2 separate regions of the Homo sapiens genome follow, and region 2 is linked to region 1. The links come from fine-mapping of genetic effects on gene expression. Tissue or cell type: whole blood. Region 1 holds a variant in brackets; the other region holds the start of a gene. All regions are shown on one strand. Distances are from middle to middle.

Region 1 (2,683 bases):
GTGGCAGAGCTTGCAGTGAGCCGAGATCGCGCCACTGCACTCCAGCCTGGGTGACAGGGCGAGGGTCTGTCTCAAAAAAAAAAAAAAAAAGGTACTTTTTCTTTTGCAACCCCGTACGCTATACATATAACTGAAATAGGTCTATGAAACACTGCTTCTGGCCAGGCATGGTGGCTCACACCTGTAATCCCAACGCTTTGGGAGGCTAAGGCAGGAGGATCACTTGAGTCCAGGAGTTCAAGACCAGTCTGACAACATAGCAAAACCCTGTCTCTATAAAAAAAATTATAAAAATTATTTTTTAAAGAAGAAGTACTGTGTCTTTTACTACATGTAGGGTACTCTGATATTTTGTGCCTCATTTAAAGAAAATGTTGGCTGGGCACAGTAGCTCACACCTGTAATCCTAGCACTTTGGGAAGCAGAGGTGGGTAGGATTGCTTGAGCTCAGGAGTTTGAGACCAGCCCGGGCAACATAGCAAGACTTGTCTCTACTAAAAATCAAACAATCAGCCAGGTGTGGTGGTGCATGCCTATAGTCCCAGCTACTTGGGATGCTGAGGTAGGAGGATCACTTAAGCCTGGAAGATTAAGGCTGCAGTGAACTATGATCACCGCACTCCAGCCCGGGAAACAGAGCAAGATCCTATCTCAAAAAAAGAAAAAGTTGACATTAGCCCAATAATGGGTTGCAACTTAGAGTTTCTTTTTTTTTTAAACTATATTAGGAGAATATTTAAAAATATTTTCTCATTTTATTAAACATTTACTTCAAAAATTTGAATCATTAAGTCACTTTTGTTTAATTTGTATAAAATTTAATGTTTTTACCTTCCTATTAGCTTTCTGAGAAAATCCAGAGGCAAACTTTTAAAATAACTTTTTATTTAATTAATTTACTTATTTAGAGACGGGGTCTCATTCTGTCACCCAGGCTGGAGTGCAGTGGCATAATCACAGCTACTACAGCCTCGATCTCCTGGGCTCAAGCCGTCCTCCTACCTTTGCCTCCTGAGTAGCTGGAACTACAGGCACACACCAGTACACCTGGCTAATTTTTTTTTATGTTTTGTAGAGACAGGGTCTTGCTACGTTGCCCGGACTGGTCTCAAACTCCTGACCTCAAGTGATTTTCCCGACTCAGCCTCCCAAAGCACTGGGATTGCAGATGTGAGAAACC[G/A]TGCCCAGTCAATTTTTATTTTAAAATAAGTGATGCATATGGGATTTAAAGTTTTAAAAAGTCAAGTAGTTTATAGTAAAAGGTTTATAATAAAAGAATAGCAGTTGTTTTTACTTCAACATCCCAGATTTCTGCTGTTTAGGGCACCTACTTTCAATCTCTACATATTGCTTTCATGTTTCTAAACTACCTTGCTTTGACCACTATTTTTTGAGTTATGGGTATCAGGCATCATATGCTAATTTCTTACCATGGTGACAAAAGTTTAGAATGCCCCTCCCCAACCCCCTTTATCTCCAACCTCTTGACAGTTCTATCATGTTTTTGTTTAGGTTTTTGTTTTTGAGGCAGGATCTTGCTGTGTTGCCCAGGCTGGTCGTGAACTCCCGGGCTCAATCAGTCCTCCCACCTCAGCATTGGGAGTAGCTAGGACTACATGCTTGCACACCTGTGTCTGGCCTATTATGATGTTTTCTGAGTCCAGTATCAATACTAAGAATATTATGACCACACATTGCTAGTAGCACACCATCATCCCTGTACCTTGTTTCTTGAACAACACAGTTGTGCAAGCTTTCTGGGTAGCTCTGGCTCATTTTCTCCCAAATATTCCAACATCTCATATGCCAGTCGTGTATAGTTCTGTGTTCAAGCACAGTCTGTCTTTTCAGAGTCCTTTATGCTGCTGTTCCAGTTGGGGCAGGTGGCTCTCCTGGGCCTTTGTGCAGCTGTCATCTTGACTCTTCACTTTGTCACCATTTTCCCGTGGTGAGACCCATGGCTTCCCAGTCTCCTGGCCGTCCTGGGTAGGAGAGGGAACTGAAGGCTTTAACTACTCTATACTCAGACTTTGAACCAATCCCTGAGTTTTCACTCTCCCACAACATAATTTGTAGTTTCCTCCCTCTAGCCAAGTCATCCAGCCCCTTTCCCCTCTCTTCCAAAATGAGTTGAGACTCCTCATCTCTCATTGCCTTTTCTTTCTAAGACAGTGGCCTTTACTGTCGTTTTCATAGTGTTTGGGGAAGAAGTCTGCCTTGTTCAGCTGCAGAAAGCAAACGAGAATTTTTCATGAATGATGGCTGCTGGTGCATTAGGTTACCACTGGCTTTGATGAATTCTCCCACTCATGAGGTTTTGACTGTTTTAGATTTTATCCTGTCTGTGTATCCCTCTGCACATTTGTTCTGTTAATACTGGGCTGAAAAAAAATACATATTAAAAAATACGTATTTTTACATATATACATAAATATACATATAATTATTAAAATTTTTTTCTATTTATTTTGCCATTAGGCACTTTTTTTTTTTTTTTTTGAGATGGAGTCTCACTGTGTCGCCCAGGCTGGAGTGCAGTGACACGAGCTCGGCTCACTGCAACCTCTACCTCCCAGGTCCAAGTGATTCTTGTGCCTCAGCCTCCTGAGTATCTGGGATCACACCTAGCTAACTTTTGTATTTTTAATAGAGATGGGATTTCACTGTGTTGGACAGGCTGGTC
Region 2 (2,683 bases), 27 kb before region 1:
CTCAAAAAATAAAATAAAATAAAAATTTACGTTTGTAATGGTTAAATATGGAGTGGTTATAACTGTTTGGCTGTATATGTAAGGTAGGATTTCTTTCTGTTTTTCTTTTTTTCTTTTGAGACATGTTGTCGCTCTGTCGCCCAGGCTGGAATGCAGTGGCACGATCACAGATCACTGCAGCCTCAACCTCCCGCGCCCAAGCAATCCTCCCACCTCAGTCTCCCAAGTAGCCGGGACAACAGGTGCAGGCCACCATGCCTGGCTAATTTTCTTGTTGTTGTTGTTGTTTGAGACAAAGTGTCACTCTTTCGCCCAGGCTGGAGTACAGTGGTATGATCTCGGCTCGCTACAACCTCTGCCTCCTAAGTTCAAGTGATCCTCTTAGCTCAGCCTCCCAAGTAGCTGGGATTACAGGTGGGCGCCATCTCAAACAACAACAAAAAAATACACTTCCTTGATTAACTCCTTTCTTCGAATTCCCATTAGGACCTCTCTTCGGGCACTGACTGATGAACTTCTACCGCCTCATCTTCTCTGCTAGACTTAGAGTTCCTGAGAGCAGAATAAATGCGGCTTGATCAGTATTTGCCGATTCAACGCAGAGGTGCCCAGGTCATCTCGGCGAGTTGAGCTGTCTAAGACCCCGCGATCGCGCAGGACAGGACCCAGAAGCCAGAGCGCAGGAACTGCTTCCGGCCGGCTCCCGGCTTCCGTCGGGCCCCGCGCCCGCGCTGCATGCTGGGATCTTCAGGTCGGAGGCCGGGGTGAGGCCGACCCACAGGCCGCCTTGCTCCCTCGCGAAGACGCTTATGCCAGTCTCGCCCGTCCCCGCTCCTCCTCAGAGAAAATGCTGCCCCGCAGCACTTACCGGAGCGACCATGAGGGTGACGATTTGAAGCACACACAGGCTTCCCGCCACCTCCTTTAAACCGCCGCTGGCTTGCCAGGGACAGACGGCGCGGTTGGCTCCCCAAAATTCCGACTGATACGCGCCTCGGCGAGCGAAAGCAAACGCGGGATACTCTCGCGTTCCTGATTGGCTGGTTGTGGACACCTCAATTATGACAGAAAGGGGCCGGGCGGGAAAGTTAGCTGTGGCCGGCGGGGATTGGCAGAAGGAACCTGTACTTACTCGTTTTTCCCGGACGTTGGCTGGTGGAGAAGAGAGGGTGGGGAGATGGGGCGCTGGGGGGGGGCGGTGGCGACGCAACTCGTGATTGGCGGATGTGCGTTCCTTAGGTCTCTACGGATTGCGGTTGCTTGGCGTTGATTGGGCAGTCGCGGGAAAACTAAAGTGGGCGGGGGGCCTTTGGGCCCGCCCCGCCGCCGGGGCCTGCTGGCGGAAGGGGAAATGGGGTGGGTGGGGGGTGGGGCAGGCGACGGTGGGGAAGATGGCGTACCAGAGCTTGCGGCTGGAGTACCTGCAGATCCCACCGGTCAGCCGCGCCTACACCACTGCCTGCGTCCTCACCACCGCCGCCGTGGTGAGCAGCTGCAGTGCCACCTTCTCATTATCTGGGCTGGATATGACTGGGTCTTCAGGAAACTGGGGTTTGGGCCTCGGGGAGGCCCAGAGGGGCTGGTCCCGGGGATGGGTGGAGGCGTACAGGGATTACTCTGGGGTTCGAGTTGGCGCCAAGAATGCTTATCCAGTGACGCGAGAAGGGAGTGCTGCTTCATGGGGGGTCAGGTCAGTTTCTAAGAGATGAGCGCCGGACCTATAGCGGGTTAGGGTTGCGGGAGCCTCCCACCCAAGAAATGTGTCCGAGAGCTCTGCCAATGGCCAGGTGGTACCATGGTGACTAGTGAGAGGAAGGTCCGTTTAGTGAAGAAACAGGAATGGGGAAAGCAAGCTGGAAACTGTCGAGAGGGGAATGGCTTATAATAAAAAGGGTCTCTGGATCTAAATAAGGGGCTAGCTGGAGGTACCCAGCCCTAACGGTGGCAGGGTCTCCAGTCTCCGTTATTTCAAGTGAGTTTTGTTGTTTCATACAGCTGTTTCAGGTGGTGCCCATGTGGTGGGTAGATTCATAGCAGCTGTTTTTATTTGTCCTGTGTCTAAAATATCACCACCTGTCTGCCTCATTTCTTCATGTCAGCCTCAACTATTGCAACATAAAACAGACTTTTTTGTGTTAGGTATTGAGGATACAAAGAATTCTACCAATCCTAGAGAATTCTTTACCAACCTCTTCCTCTGGCCTAAGAAGAAAGGCTTAAAGGAAATCACGTCTAAGTGACCGAGAGTTGGAAATTGCTAGACCTACTAATTCTTTGTTGTAAATGATGAAATTTTGTTTCTTGATTTGCTTTAAGAAGCTCTTTTTCTATTTCAGCAGTTGGAATTGATCACACCTTTTCAGTTGTACTTCAATCCTGAATTAATCTTTAAACACTTTCAAGTAAGTGGTTCATCACAATAGTGATTAATGCTTCAGTTTCTTCTTTTTCTTACTGTTTAGTAGCAAATCCTGTTATACACTATCCTAAAAAAGAACCCAGTGGGGACCTTTGATTATAAGTTGCCTTGTCAGGATATAAAGCAGTGATTCTGCAGCCTGGTTGGACTTGAGAATCCCTTAGGGAACTTTGAAGAGATTCTCAAGCTCCTCAACAAGTACCAAATCAGAATTTGCAAGGGTAGGAATTAAAATCTGTGTTTTATTTTTAAAGTTCCCTGCAT

Evidence for each region. PIP is the estimated chance that this variant, and not a neighbour inherited with it, causes the effect.
Region 2: MIS12 starts here. The variant in region 1 is fine-mapped to the expression of MIS12 in whole blood (GTEx, PIP above 0.99).

Annotation. Positions count from the first base shown.
Region 1 is chr17:5,457,423-5,460,105 of GRCh38, reverse strand. All of the region lies in intron 4 of DHX33 (DEAH-box helicase 33), which reads left to right. Among named protein-coding and RNA genes, the nearest start is that of DHX33, 10 kb to the left of the region's middle. The variant G/A (reference allele first, on the strand shown) is at 1,181.
Region 2 is chr17:5,484,870-5,487,552 of GRCh38, reverse strand. It overlaps MIS12 (MIS12 kinetochore complex component), which reads right to left and starts at 987. Exons shown (of 3, transcript NM_001258217.2): 1 at 869-987. DERL2 (derlin 2) reads left to right here and starts at 1,375. Exons shown (of 7, transcript NM_016041.5): 1 at 1,375-1,484; 2 at 2,337-2,402. The coding sequence starts at 1,392. RefSeq lists enhancers at 368-477, 718-817, 1,438-1,497, 1,538-1,717 and silencers at 991-1,158, 1,108-1,267.